2 separate regions of the Homo sapiens genome follow, and region 2 is linked to region 1. A link means that fine-mapping ties the variant in region 1 to the expression of a gene that starts in the linked region. Tissue or cell type: testis. Region 1 holds a variant in brackets; the other region holds the start of a gene. All regions are shown on one strand. Distances are from middle to middle.

Region 1 (8,000 bases):
CAAGTTGTGAATGCAAAGGAAAAGTTCTTGAAGGAAATTAAAAGTGCTACTCCAGTGAAACACAGATGATAAGAAAGCAAAACAGCCTTACTGTTTATACAGAGAAAGATTTAGTGATGTGGATAGAAGATCAAACCAGCCACAACATTTCCTTAAGCCAAAGCCGAATACAGAGCAAGGCCCTAAGTCTCTTCAATTGAGTGGTAAGAGAGCAGCAGACAAAAAGTCTGATGTTGGCAGAAACTGGTTCATGAAGTTTAAGGAAGGAAGCTGTCTTTAGAACAAAACGGTGCACAGTGAAGCAGTAAGTGCTGATGTAGAAGCTGCACCAAGTTATCCAGAAGATCTAGCTAAGATCACTGATTATGGTGGTTATACCAAACAACAGATTTTCAGTGTAGATGAAACAGCCTTCTATTGAAAGATGCCATGTAGAACTTTCATAGCTAAAGAGCAGAAGTCAATGCATGCTTTCAAATATTCAAAGGCTGATTCTCTTGTTAGGCTGGTTCTCTTGTTAGCAGCTAATGCAGTTGGGGGCTTTAAGCTGAAGCCAATGCTCATTTACCATTCTGAAAATCCTATGGCCCTTCAGAATTACACTAAATCTACTCTGCCTGTGTTCTATAAATGGAACAACAAAGCCTGGGTGACAGCACATCTGTTCACAGAATGGTTTACCGAATATTTGAAGCCCACTGTTGAGACCTGCTACACGGAAGTCCTCTGCTGTTCATTGACAATGCATCTAGTCACCCAAGAGCTCTGATGAAGATATACAAGGAGACTGATGTTGTTTTCCTGACTGCAAACACAATATCTATTCTGCAGCCCATGGATCATGGCGTAACTTTGACTTTCAAGACTTATTATTTAAGAAATATATTTCATAAGGCTTTAACTGCCACAAATAGTGAATCCTTCGATGGGTCTGGAAAAAGTAAATAGAAAACCTTCTGGAAAGAATTCATTATTCTAGATGCTATTAAGAACATTTGTGATTCACGGGAGGAGATTAAAATAGTAACATAAACTAGAGTTTGGAAGTAGTTGATTCCAACCCTTGTGGATGACTTTAAGGGGTTCAAGACTTGAGTGGAAGAAGTCACTGCAAATGTAGTGGAAATAGAGGGAGAACAAGAATTACAAGTGGAGCCTGAAGATGTGACTGAATTGCTGCCAATCTCACGATATCAAACTTGACAGATGAGTTGCTTCTTATGGATGAGCAAAGAGAGTGGTTTCTTGAGATAGAATCTACTGGTGAAGATGCTATGAACACTGCTGAAACGATTACAAAAGATTTAGAATATTACATAAACTGAGTTGATAAAGCAGCGGCAAGGTTTAAGACTAAAACTGACTCCAATTTTGAAGTTCTACTGTGGGTCAAATGCCATCAAACAGTATTGTATGCTATTGAGAAATCATTTGTGAAAGGAAAAGTCATTCAATGTGGCAAACTTCATTGTTGTCTTATTTTAAGAAACTGCCACAGCCACCCCAGCATTCAGCAACCACCACTCTGATCAGTCAGCTGCCATCAATATCAAGGCAAGACCTTCCAACAGCAAAAAGATTTTGACTCACTGAAGGCTCAGAGAATTGTTGCCATTTCTTAGCAATAATTTTTTTATTATACTTTAAGTTCTGGATTACATGTGCAGAACGTGCAGGTTTGTTACATAGGTATACACGTGCCATGGAAGTTTGCTGCACCCGTCAACCCGTCATCTACATTAGGTATTTCTCCTAATGCTATCCCTCCCTTAGCCCCCCACCCCGACAGGCCCCGGTGTGTGATGTTCCCCTCCCTGTGTCCATGTGTTCTCATTGTTCAACTCTCACTTATGAGTGAGAACATGCAGTGTTTGGTTTTCTTTTCCTGTGTTAGTTTGCTGAGAATGATGGTTTCCAGCTTCGTCCATGTCCCTACAAAGGACATGAACTCATCCTTTTTTATGGCTGCATAGTATTCCATGGTGTATATGTGCCACATTTTCTTTATCCAGTCTATCATTGATGGGCATTTGGGTTGGTTCCAAGTCTTTGCTATTGTGAATGGTGCCGCAATAAACATATGTGTGCATGCATCTTTATAGCAGCATGATTTACAATCCTTTGGGTATATAGCCAGTAATGGGATCGCTGGGACAAATGGTATTTCTGGTTGTAGATCCTTGAGGAATCGCCACACTGTCTTCCGCAATGGTTGAACTGATTTATACTCCTACCAACAGTGTAAAAGCGTTCTTATTTCTCCACATCCTCTCCAGCATCTGTTGTTTCCTGACTTTTTAGCAATCGCCATTCTAACTGGCATGAGATGGTATCTCACTGTGGTTTTGATTTGCATTTCTCTGATGGCCAGTGATGATAAGCTTTTTTTCATATGTTTGTTGGCTGCATAAATGTCTTCTTTCGAGAAATGTCTATTCATATCCTCTGCCCACTTTTTCATGGGGTTGTTTTTTTCTCATAAATTTGATTAAGTTCTTTGTAGATTCTGGAACTAAGGTATGTACATTGTTTCTTTAGGTATAATGCTATTGCATGTTTAATAGAATACAGTATAATGTACATATAACTTTTATATGCCCTATAAAAGAAACCAAAACATGTGTGTGACTCAGTTTATGGCAATATTCACTTTATTGTGGTGCTCTGAAACCAAACTGCAGTATCTCCGATTTGCACCTGTAAATCACTCAAAAAGCATGACATGAAATGTAACTCCATTCAATATTAAGGGTTAAATATTAGAATTCCTGGAGGTCCTAGCCAGATCAATTGGGCAACAGAAAGTTAGAAAAAAAAAAAAGGTATCCAAATAAGAAAAGAAGTCAAACTATCTCTCTATGCAAACAATGTGTGATTCTATAGCTAGAAAACCTTAAAGACCCTGCCAAAAGTTTCCTGGAGCTGATAAACTACATCAGCACAGTTTCAGGATGTCAATTCAATGGAAAAAAAAATCAGCAGCATTTCTATATACTAATCATGTTCAAGCTGAGAGCCAAACCAAGAATGCAATCCCATTTACTATAGCCACAGGAAAAAAATAAAATAGCCAGGAATACATCTAACCAAGTAGTTGAAAGATCTCTACAAGGAGAACTACAAAATACTGATAACAGAAGTCATAGAAGACACAAACAAATGTAAAAACATCTCATGCTCACAGATTGGAAGAATCAATATTATTAAAATGGCGATACTGCCTAAGGCACTCTATAGATTCAATGCTATTCATACCAAACTACCAATGTCATTTTTCACAGAACTAGAACAAACGATTCTAAAATTCATATAGCACCAAAAAAGAGCCAAAATAGCCAAAGCAATCCTAAGTGAAAAAAAACAAAGCCAGAGACATCATATTACCTGACTTCAAACTATACTATAAGGCTACAATAAGCCAAAACAGCATGGTACTGGTCCAAAAAGAGACATATAGACTAATGGAACAGAATAGAGAACCCAGAAAAAAAGCTGCAGACCTACAGCCATCTGATCTTTGACAAAGTAGACAAAAATACTAAATGGGAAAAGGACCCCTATTCAATAAATGGTGCTGGGATAGTTGGCTAGCCATATGTGGAAGAATGAAACTGGGCCCCTACCTTTCACCATATACAAAAAATAACTCAAAATAAAGTATAGGTTTCAATGTAAAACCTCAAACTATAAGAATCCTAGAAAAAAAAGTAAGAAACACCATTCTGGACTTCGTCCATGGCAAAGAATTACGACTAAGTCCTCAAAAGCAATTGCAACAAAAACAAAAATTGACAAGTGGAACCTAATTCAACTAAAGAGGGTCTGCAAAGCAAAGAAACTATCAACAGAGTAAACAACCAACCTACAGAATGGGAGAAAGTATTCACAAACTCTGCATTCAACAAAGGTCTAATATCCAGAATCCGTAAGGACCTTAAATGAACAAGCAAAAAACATATAGCCTCATTAAAATATGGGCAAAGACATGAACAGACACTTCTCAAAAGAAGACATACAAGCGGCCAACAAACACATGAAAAAATGCTCCGCATCACTAATAATCAGAGAAATGCAAATCAAGACCACAATGAGATACCATCTCACCCAGTGAGAATGGCAATTATTAAAAAAGTCAAAAAAACAAAAACATGTTGGTAAGGCTGTGAAGAAAAGTGTTATACACTGTTAGTGGGAATGTAATTTAGTTCAGCCACCGTGGAAAGCAGTTTGGAGATTTCTCAAAGAACTCAAAACTATCATTCAACCCAGCAATCCCATTACTTGGCATAAAACCAAAAGTCAATAAATCATTCTATCAAAAAGACACATACACTCACATGTTCATAGCACCACTACTCACAATAGCAAAGACATGGTATCAACCTAGATGTCAATCAACAGTGGACTGGATAAAGAAAATAGATGCATAGTATTCCATGGTGTATACACATGGTATATATTCCATATACACCATGGAATACTATGCATCCACAAAAAAGAACAAAGT[CATGGTGAT/C]ATGGTTTGGTGCTGTGTCCTCACCCAAATCTCATCTGGAATTGTAATCCTCATAATCCCCATGTGTCGAGGGAAGGACCAGGTGGGAGGTGATTGGATCATGGGGTGGCTTCCCCTATGCTGTTCTTATGATAGTGACTTCTCATGAAATCTGATGGTTTTTATAAGTATTTGACAGTTTCTCTCTCTCTCTCTCTCTCTCTCTCTCTCTCTCTCCTTTCTTTCTTCTTTTTTTGAGACAGAGTCTGGCTCTGTCGGCCAGGCTGGAGTGCACTGGCACAATCTCGACTCACTGCAACCTCTGCCTCCCGGGCTGAAGCAATTCTCCTGCTTCAGCCTCCCGAGTAGCTGGGATTACAGGCATGTGCCACCATGCCCATTTAATTTTTGTATTTTTAGTAGAGACGGGGTTTCACCATGGTGGCCAGGGTGGTCTCGAACTCCTGACCTCAGGTAATCCGCCTGCTTCGGCCTCCCAAAGTGCTGGGATTACAGGCGTGAGCCACCCTGCCCGGCCAACATGCTTATACTCTCTCCTACAGCCTTGTGAAGAAGGTGCCTACTTCCCCTTCCACCACGATTGTAAGTTTCCTGAGTCCTCCCCAGCCATGCGGAACTGTAAGTCAATTAAAACTCCTTTGTTTATAAATTACCCAGTCTTAGGTAGTATCTCTGTAGCAGTCTAAGAACAGACTAATACACATGTCCTTTGCAGCAACATGGATGCAGCTGGAGGCCATTATTTTAAGCAAATTAATTCAGGAACAGAAAACCAAATATCACATGTTCTCACTCAGAATTGGGGGCTAAACAATGGGTACTCATGATCATAACGATGCCAGCAATAGACACTGAAGACTACTAGAGGGGAGAGGAAGAGAGGGAACAAGGGTTGAAAAACTCACTATTGGGTACTATGCTCAGTACCTGGGTGATAAGATCATTCATACCCTAAACCTCAGCATCATGCAATACATCCAGGTAACAAACCTACATATATGTATCCTCTGAATCTAAAATAAAAGTTGAAAAAAAAGAATTCCTATCACAGTGACTATGGATACTCATGTATAGCTTCAACTATACATGCTATATCCTACAAATAGTAGGCATTCAATAATTATTTGCTAAATGAAAGAATGAAGAAACAAATAAATGTCATTTAAAACAAGACATCCAAATTACTAATTTTTTTCTACCCTTTAAATCAAATATAACTACTCTGCTAAGTATATCTAGAGTTTTCCAAAACAATGTAATATAAATAAAATGGATATGTTTGCTGTGCAATACTGAAATAAACAATATATAATTATAAACAATAATCTACTTATATGCTCAAACACTGACACTATCTTCATGATGCAATTCTTTCTCTTCACAAAAACACCAAACTTCCACCTTTCTTTCTTCCTTCCTTTTTTTCCTTTGAGACGGAGTCTCGCTCTGTGGCCCAGGCTGGAGTGCAGTGGCGGGATCTCGGCTCACTGCAAGCTCCGCCTCCCGGGTTCACGACATTCTCCTGCCTCAGCCTCCTGAGTAGCTGGGACTACAGGCGATGCCACCACGCCCGGCTAATTTTTGTATTTTTAGTAGAGACGGGGTTTCACCATCTTGGCCAGGCTGGTCTTCAACTCCTGACCTCGTGATCCGCCCCCCTCAGCCACCCAAGGTGCTTGGATTACAGACCTAAGCCACTGCGCCTGGCCCACCTTTATTTCTTATTGTCAAGTGAAGCCTCTTTGACTCTGGAAGGCAATCAGGCATCTTTTTATTGACCAGCTGTATAACTGGGCACCCTGTAATGTATTTCAGGACAAGAAATGAGCAGGTGTGTCTCTTGAACTTCGCCTAAACATGTATTAAGTCTAACTTACATTCTTTGGAGAAATAGTACAACTCATTTTGATGATTCCACAGAAAGACATAAAAGGAAGGAATGTTTAAAAGGAATCATTGTGGTTTTGTTTGTTTTTGCAGGGGGAGAACAAAACTAAGAGTAAATGTGCTGATATCCTAATTGTTCAAAGGGGAAAAAAACAGAAAAATAAAAACAATAATGTCACTGATTTAGTGAACAAAGAAAGGAATATGGTAGAGACTGGATGCTCACTAAACCTGTTTTTGCTTCTCAGACACACAGCCAAACTACATTTCCCAGCCCTCCTTTATGTGAGCAGAGGTCATGTGACTGAGTTATGGCAAATATGTACAAAGTGGGTGGAAGTGATAACAAGGTGCTTCCAAGTTTGGCCCATGAAACCTCACACACAATTCCCCATATATTATGCTCTGCTGTTCTCCACATATGGACTGAATATAGAGGAGGATAAGGCCCAACATATGGTAGGACTATGTGAAGGAAGGAGTATGAGACTCTCACTGACTGTACAAAGTAGAGCCACCCACCTCTTCTATCCATCATCACTCCTCTACACTTTAGGGTGGCCAGCTTTAACAATTAATAAGTATACAGAGAGCACAGCTGAATTTGAATTTCAGATAAAACACATATTTTTTTAGTATAAGTATGCCTTATACAGTATTAAAGACATAACTATATATGTATGCAATATTTAGGATATACTTAAAAATTGTTTATTGCTTATTTGAAATTCAAATGTAACTGGGCATCTTGAATTTTATCTGGCAATCCTATACATAGTAGACTGTGACATAAGGTAAGAAATAAACTTTTATTGTATTAAGGCACTGAAATTTGGGATTTTTTTACAACCACTTTCCTACCTTGACTAATAAAAAACATACAAATACTATTTTAAAGAACAGTAATAGAAATAATTAGTAGTAGTAATACTAACAATAGCAATAAAAATAATTAGTTGTGTGAATAAAGTCTGAAACTATCACCACATAGTTGATTTGTGGTCAAGCTGTTAACAAACCAAGTTCTTCTGCCTCTCAGGCACAGTATACACAACAACTGAGATTCATGGAATTCATATATACTTGTTGATTACATATTAGGTGTGATATACTCTGGGATATATATACAATGAACAAGACACATTTTGTGCTTTCAGGGGCGTAGCAGGTCAGCTTAGACAAGTACTAACCCTTGTATAATACAAAAAACAATATATGGCAAATTAAAAGGGAAAACTGTGTTAATAAACAGTCTTTAATTCTGATACCACAAAAGTTGTTACCAAAGTGGCATGAAGAGAAAAACTGATTTATAAAAAGGCAGAGAGAGTATTTTAGTTTTAATTTCTTTGTCATAGGCCTTTGCTCCCAGAATCCAATGTCCACTCCATTCTTGGTGAGCTAGACAGATGAAATTTCCTTCCCTTCCTTTTCCCTAAAATAGTTTTAAAGGGAATGTTTAAGCACAAGCTGGTTGATCAGATGAAATTCCCTTTCCTTCTTTTTTCCTTCAATAGTTTTAAAGAGAATGTTTAAGTACAAGCCTGGCTGATCAAGAACAATGGCTATCATTTATTAATCACCTACTGAGTGTTAGG
Region 2 (8,166 bases), 210 kb after region 1:
TATTTCATATAGTGACTTCCTAATGAAAGACAAAACAAAGATCTAATACAGGTAAGCACTTGTCAACTATTCACCATGAACTCATGTTAGAAAACACATTTCTTGATTATAAAACCAATGTGCTTATTTCCTAAGCATGCTATTATTTATAATAATGACTCCTTTTGCAGAATGTTTTTGTTAAAATGAGTATTTGTTACAGAAACAAATTATTTCTGTGATTTTTAAGATAAGAACAGTTCTAATTTGCTTACTAAAGGAGAATTCTTCACCTTTTATAATCTGTTACCTTAAAAATTAAGAACAAAAATCTGGTGACATCCATTTTAATGATGACTTCAAGATTCCTACCTTCAGATGTTAGTACATTGTTGCAGAATAGTGCCATTAAAGTCCCAAGTAAACATAAAGAGAAAAACCGAGAGATTAGATCAACTCTCCCACCAAGATGAAATTAAGTTTATTCTATAAGACAGAACCTACGTCGATGTTTGTCTTAGATTCAAACAACATTAACCTAGAAATTAATGCAACGACAATTAACCCAGAACAGTCATTGTCAATTCTCCAAAAGCGGCCTCTTCACCTATATTTAAGTTCATAAGGCAAACCAGTCAAGAATTCCTGCTGCCAATTGAAATGAATGGAAGAAATATATTTAAATCAAATAGCACCATCTAGCAGAACCCTGATCTGCTCACGAGAGTAGATATTACTTGGTGTTCAGTTTGGTAGATTTGACAGCAAAGTGGCAATTATTTGTTTTCCTGGTGGGAAATCACAGAATTAGAGCTAGAAAGGACCACAGTTATGCAAGTTCCAACATCCTTGTTATTATCTGAGAAACTAAAAAAAAAAATCAAGCAGTCCTCAGGATACTGAGTGGGATTCAACTAAAGTTCACCCCTTCCTGGAAGTTCACCTAAAATCTAAAATTACTTTGATTCTCAAATTCAGTCACCCCCAAAATAAGATCATGCCTCAATACATTTCAATCACTCTGACTAATGTGAAATTCAAATATTCTGTGATCATTAAAACATCCTCCTTCAGATGTTTTTATCAGGCACATTATAACAAAATGATTAATGCACACAAATGAGACTGCATTTCAAAACTTCAATTCTAGTAACTGCCGTTTCTTAACCAGGCTATAACGCTATGTCTTTTATATACTACTTGTCACAGCAACAAGATCCTGAATGCAGCTCAGAAAATATCTCTTGCAAAAAAACAAAAAAGCCTCTCTAATTTTTGTTTTGTTTTGTTTTGCTTTGCTACATCAAGGCCTGATACCTCTAAATCCTATGGGAATTGAGTGTGTTGCTGCCAACACAAAGATTAGGAAATGTTCCCATCCCTAGGGCACACAAAACTTTCAGGGGGAGACTAACTGCCTAAACCAAGGAGGGAAACTCAGTCGCCTGCGCATTCGGTTTTTATTTACGCAGCTATTTCTGTGCGCAAGGTAACCAAAGTACCTTTGAGAGATGCTCTCAGACTTTTTCTCTGGTCTGAACCCCCTCAGAAAGACAGGGTGCGTTCAACGACAAGGATAACTCTGACCCTCAGAGTTTAAGTGGTTACTGGGAATCACTGATCTGTTGCACAGTTTAAAAAAAAAAGGGGGGGGTTCTTCCTCAGTGATCACAGTCACTATTCGTTCTCATTTTTAGTAACAACCAAATCACCGTTACAAGTACACAAGAATAGCAGCAAACCGCTTTGCTTTGCAGTGTGCCGTGACAGTGGCATCCCGGGCCGGGAGGGGCTCTGTTCTCGCCAGCCGCCTCTTGGGCTCCCACCGAAGTTAACACCTGTATCTCCCCACAACTGTAACCAAGCGGCTCCTTCCCACCTGAACGCTTCTCCCCTCCCACAAACCCCTTTTCGGACCACTGGCCCTCCCCGCCACAGCTGCCCTCCTCGGGCGCCCCCGGCGGCTCCCACAACTCCCCTCCGCGCGCCCCCGACCACCGCCCCGCCGGGCCCGCCCCTCCCGCCGCTCGGGGGCTGCCAGCCTCACAAAAAGTTCGCCAGCCGCCGCCGCGGAGTTGGGTCCGCTGCGAGAGGCAGAAACGCCAGCCTCCTCCAGCGGATCCCGCTCCTCGCCAACACACTTTAGCTCCCCGGGAACTCGGTCCCTCTCCGACTCCCAAACTTCGGCGGCGTCTCCGGCGCCCACCCGCCCCCGCCCCCGCCCCAGCCCCAGCCCCAGCCCCGCGATGCGCGGGGGACTGCGGGCGCCGCGTCCGTAGCTGGCCCAGGAAAGCCCGGACGCCCAACCCGCACACGCCCTCCGCGCCCCGCGCGCGTCTCCGCGCCCCGCGGGGCCCCGCTCGGCCGCTCCACGCCCGGCTTCCGCCCGCCGCGCGCCCGGCACCGCCGCCCTCGCCTCGCCTCGCCCCGCGCTCGCGGCCCTAAGCCCCAGCGCCCAGGCCCCCGCCGCCGCGCTCCCCGCGCTGCCCGCCCCGACCCCGGCCCCGACCCCGGCCGGCCCGCCAAACACCCACATTCCCACTGCGCGCCTTCCTCCACGCAGCTGCCCCTCCCGCCACCCCCGGCGGCTCCCCAGGTCCCCGGAGCCCCGGACCCCAGCTCTAAAGTTACTTTGGAAGGTGAACCCGCGGGTTATTTCCCTCAATCACCCAAACAAGTTTCCATCCTCGCCACCAGCACCACCGCCGCCCCTCAACACACCCGGTCCCTCCCGCCGACAGCCCCCTGCGGCCGCCCGCCCAGCGCCCGCACCTCCCGGGAAAGCGCAGCTCCCCGCACCACACGCCCCCATCGCGGCACCCCTCCCCCTGCCAGCCCACCCCCGGCGCTCCCCGGGCGGAGAGTGTCTGTGTCTCCCAGAGTGTGCGAGTGCGTGCGTGAGTGTGCGCGCGTGTGAAGGCGGAGGTGGGTGAGAAGCGGAGACACTTACTTCTCCCGGGCCTGGCTGTCGGACGGGACGGCGCTGCTGTTACTCTTGCCTTTGCCGTACATGCTTGTGCCGAGAGCAGCTCCCACTGTCACGCACCTGTCAACCCATCACAGCCTCCCCGGGAACAGCCCCGTCCCCATGGCGACCCACGCAGCCACCCCCACTATTGGCCGCCCCACGCCAAAGCTCCGCCCCCTTCGCCCAGGCAACGCGCGAGACTGACAGGCCTCCCCCTCCCTCTGGCCTTCCGAAGCGCGCGGTGGCGGCTAAGCCTCAGCGGCAGTCTCCTCCCTCCTTCCCTCCCTCCCCGACTCCCTCCCTCCCGCCTTCCCTCTCCGCTCTCCTCCCTCCACCCGCTCTCCTTCCCCCTCCCCCCTCCGAACCCGGGCGCAAGGGGGGAATTAGAAACTGCTCTAGAAGGATTTTAAACAACTGGCTGTTCTCTCCGCCGCCACCCCTCCCCCCGCGCCGCCCGCGCTCAGCTCCTCACTGGAGAGAAGGCGCCGGGAGGAGGAGAAACTGCGGCCTGGAGTCTCCGGCCGGAGCCGGCGGAGCTGGAGCCGTGGCGGCCCCAGACTTCGGGGCGCCCGCCGAGTCCACGACAGAGCCACGGCCTCAGCCGCCCTGGGGCCCCCACCAGCCCCTCTCCCGCTCCTCTCCTATGCGTGACCCCGCGCCGGTACCCACGATTGATTTTTGCGGTCCTCAGCCCTACTCCCTGGGGTGTCGCCCCCGCCCTGTTCCCAGAGGGCCGGCTGGCGAGGGACACCCGCGCGGTTCCCTCGACCTTCTGGCTGAGCGACCGACAGCGACTCGCCTTCTCTCCTGGGGAAAGGCTGCACCTCCGGCCCTCGGCGCCGCTGCGGTGGCGGCGCCCGGGGCCGCGCCCTGCGCCCCAGGGGAGCACCCGGCCTGGGGTCGGCCTCCTCTGTAAGAGGTGAGCGGACCTCCCGAGGAGGCCCGGTGACTCCTGCGGCCGCAGCGGCCCCTGCCCCAACCCCTTCTTGCACGGAGCCCCGCGGCGCCCTGGACACCCCGCCAGATCTGCCGCAGAAGAGGGCCCCAGGCTTCCCCACCCGGCCTGGTTTAACAGTTTGGGTCAGTGATGCCTATTCATCCTGACCCCTGGAGTGGAAAAGGCCAGAAAAGGTCTTGAAAGACTTCCCTGTCCTTGCCCGTTAGAATAGGCCCCAGCGCGCTCCAAGGTGTACAAAGCTGTGCCAGGGCTGAAAGGCTGCCCGAGAATGTTTCTGTATCCAAATCCCTAATCCCATTTCAGTAAACGCGCAAAAGTTTCAGAAACACACACAATCTGGTTCCCAGTAGAACTCTGCATCATTTATCTTATTGAAGTCCTTGACTGTAAAATCAGACGGGTGCAAATGGGGTTAGAAAGAAGATGGGCTTCACACGGGGAAGAAGGGGACAGATGGGGTGGGACAGGGCGACATCTGGAAAGGATGAATAGACAAGAAGTAGCTATGGGAGGAGAGGGAAATCGGATTCGCGTGGAGGAAGGTACCGTTCTATTCCACACACACACAGCTTTAAGCATTTAGTAGGAGGATCATAAAATGCATATGGAGATATACAGATAGATGGAAAGGAAAGAAATGGGTGTGAGCATTGACAGAAGTGATAGGAATAAAACATCAACAGATGATTAAGGAAGGGCAGTTAGCAAAAGTGAGAGGTCGAGAATCAAAAACGCGGTTGGCAACCAGACATAAAGACGGGAAAATGAAGAGGAAGGACTTTCTATACTGGTGTTAATGACAAGGAAAAAAACATGAGGAAAGTGAGGTATAAAAAGATGAGAAGACTAGAAGATACAGGATTAAATGAAGAAGCCATAGAGTGTGATAGCAAAAGATTAAAAGTAATAGAGGACAGACATTATCGTTAAAAAAAAGATATAAGAAAAAAAGCACTTTTATTAAAAGGACAAAAATTAAGCCAATAAAGGAAATGAGGGGGGAAAAGTGGGGGAAAAAAATACACTGGCTTAAGTAGATTAATTTCCAAGAGATGTAATTTGCCATTTCTGACTTAAGAATTCTTCTGTCAGTTTCTAATGACCTACAGTTATTGGGTGGTTAGGATATGGCATTCATATTCTTCTTTTTGTTTCTAATGACCTGCAATGATTGGGTGATTGAAGCGAAGCTGAGCCAGTCAGCCTCTCTTAATGAACTTTTGCTCAAAATGCTCAAATGTGTATAAGGTTGCCACAGTTTACAGACTCAACTTCAAGGTTAGCATTATGTAATTTTTTTGTTCAATTATCTACTTCCATTGGCCTTAACCCAGAAAATTTTTAGTATATCAAGGCTCCATCTCTTATAGAATACTCCCTATAAAGGTGCTGCTCAGAGAATGCTGTCAGTTCTCAGAGAGCTCTGGCAGCTTCTCAGACACCCTCCTGCCTGCCCCTGGAAAAACGAACCAAGGGTGGGCTTTGTCCTACTATCCAAAAACAAAGTAGGTATTATCCTTGCACTGGTGTTGGGACTCTCTTAACTATGGTTCTCAATCATGGCACGTTAGAATTGCCTTTATTTTCATTGTTGTTGGGTTTTGTTTGTTTGTTTATATACTAACTGGATCAGAAACCTTGGGGATGGACCCAGGTACCTGCATTTTTTTCATAAGCTCCACGTGGTTCTTGTGTATAACCAGGGCTGCCTGCCTTTGCTCTTCAGTATCCATTTAAAGACAGCCAATGGGTACCATAAGAGATTAGTACAAGACTTTTAGGTTGGGCTGTCCATTAACAAATGACCCTACTCAAAGCATTAAGATGTCTTTACAGTGTACTTTACTTTCTGCCACCAAGCCAACAAACTTGTTAATAGGACAAAAATGTATGCCCATATGTGTTCTCATAGTACAAGATCATGAATAGCCATGGTTTAATTTGCTATTTCCTATAGAGAAAGGAAAATGAAGAAAGAGAACAGGAGAAACTGTTTGCTGTCTACTGCTATAATTTATTCATTTGATTGGTTTTTACCCAGATTTGTTACATTTGGAAGTCCTATGGGTAATGGCATATTTTCTGATGTTTAAAAAATAAATAAATTATAGATCTGCACAGTGGGGTATGGAATTTAGAACAATTTGGTCTTAGTCTTTGGAAAGAATAAAATGCTAAAAGGTCTTAGTTCAGAACTTGCGAAGTTAATGTCAGAGTTACCTTTATAAGAATGTTCTCATCTGACAAATATACAAAGTGAAAACATGACTTTTATATGTATATGTATCCTGTATATAGTAACCTTAAAGCTTAAGTAATCAAATCAATTATCATTAAAACAGCTCAGCAGCTACCTGAACCATCTCTGTTTTATTTTCCTCTAAATGTTTTCACATGTAAATAAAATGCTTCTTTGCCCTTGTTCAAATTATGTTGAGTACAAAGAGTGTTCTTTGCATCAGCAACTGTATCTCCTGGGACCAATATTGTAATTAATGAGATTTGAAACACATATTCAGAGCCAAATTTGAGATCCCAGACACAAAAATGAAGATCCATTGTTTTGTTTTCATTTTTTAAAAAGGGAAAAGATTGGAGATTTAAAGCTTCCTAGTGTAGAGAATCACAATGTATTTTTAGAGTTTTTTTTTTAACCCACATATGAGATTGATGAATTTGGGGAGCCTGGATTTGGCATAGGGGAACCCTGACCAGCAATGTCACCAGAATGGAACATTTGGAATTGAGGTTGATTTTTTAAAAAAACTTTACTCTTTCAGATATAGAACATCACAATAACTCAATCATTAGGTCTCCCTCATCTGTACCCCCATTTCGTTTGGACACGTGTGCACAATTTTCTCTTTCTGGAACCTACATCTAATTCTTGGAAGTCTTTATCACTTTAAAACAGGCAGTTCATTATGCCACCCTGCTCAAGCTCTAGATTGACTATACATTTCTTTGATCCTAACTTTTTTTTCTGTAGAACATTAAGGTTAATAATGTCTACATTCTTACAGTGCATGAGACCTCAGAAAAGATTTACCTGTTATATACAACAAAGAGACCACCTCTTTATGTTTAAATGGAAGCTAATCATGAATTTAATTATGTGCATCATACAGAACATTTAGCTTATTAACTTAAAACCACTTAGAAATAAAAATATTTAGAAAAATAAACTAAACATTAAAATAAATTTTCTTGTTTTAGAGTAATATTCCCCAAAAATAAAACTGTTCTATTATTTATTTGTTTCATAAAACTAATCAGTTTATACAAATAACTCAGTTGCATTCATACCACTTTTCATTTCAAATCGTTTAACAGATATTCATTCATTATTACTCAATACATCCCAGTTAATTAGATTTCCCTAACCAGCTTTTTAAACTGGGTGAACTGAGTTCTAGATATATTCGTTAGCATTAGCTGATCCAAAAAGAAAACAGAACTAGTTCCAGAAGAAGAACTCCATGTTCCTGGCTGGCAGTCCTTTTCCCAGACCACGAAGCCACACCTCTTTCTCTCAGAAGTGACTATTCCACCAAGGAATGTGAGCAAGCTCTGAGATGTTTGTCATTCAGATTACCTTGTGAAACTTCACTCCCAGGCAGAAGAGACCAGCATGCTCAGATTCACAAAATGCTCAAATGCCATGTACCAAAGTAATGAAATGAATAGTCATTGCAACTATGCTACTGTGCAATTTAGTCACTTACACCAGAATAATAAATGAAATTGGGCCTCAAATTAACATTTTTTGACACACTATTATTGGTTTAACATCAGCTAATCTGAGGCAATGACTGTTTCCATAACCTATTGCCCTGGATTTTTTAAATCCCAATTTACATATTCATAAACACTTACCAATATGTTAGGAGACATGGTGTGCAGATCTGCCAGTTCCAAAGAGTTCCAGCCCTAGAGGGTCTAGTCTTTTTTAGCACTACCAAGAATGTAAAGTTTAGTGACTTGGAATAAAATAAAATTATCCTTATACAAAGAATTATATATAAGCTGAAGATGAAAAATGAAAAACCAGGGCTACCATGTATGGCAATTTCATATACTGTATGTAGCATTTTGCAAAACAAATTCCAAGTGTTGTCATGTTCACTGGCTGGATTTTTGTCATTAAATGTTGAGAGTTATGTAATAGGAAGTGTGCCAAAGAGTGTTCTTTATTCAAAAGTATTACTATTTTTTTTAGTGCATTCCTAAATCTTCACAATGGTTTTTCACCTAGTAAGGT

Alleles and levels. Alleles are on the strand shown, and positions count from the first base shown. SD is a standard deviation of normalised expression in the study named.
For the expression in testis of the gene that starts at base 3,046 in region 2, allele CATGGTGAT in region 1 goes with a lower level than allele C (small effect, 0.15 SD a copy in GTEx).

Evidence for each region. PIP is the estimated chance that this variant, and not a neighbour inherited with it, causes the effect.
Region 2: it holds the start of SSBP2, and the variant in region 1 is fine-mapped to the expression of SSBP2 in testis (GTEx, PIP 0.96).

The regions. Positions count from the first base shown.
Region 1 is chr5:81,538,123-81,546,122 of GRCh38, forward strand. The region is part of intron 4 of SSBP2 (single stranded DNA binding protein 2); the gene reads right to left. Among named protein-coding and RNA genes, the nearest start is that of ACOT12, 150 kb to the left of the region's middle. The variant CATGGTGAT/C (reference allele first, on the strand shown) is at 4,508.
Region 2 is chr5:81,748,052-81,756,217 of GRCh38, forward strand. It overlaps SSBP2 (single stranded DNA binding protein 2), which reads right to left and starts at 3,046. Exons shown (of 17, transcript NM_001256732.3): 1 at 2,930-3,046. The coding sequence starts at 2,991. RefSeq lists silencers at 1,908-2,067, 2,288-2,337, 2,778-2,827, 2,998-3,327, 3,598-3,947 and a cis regulatory region at 6,755-6,840.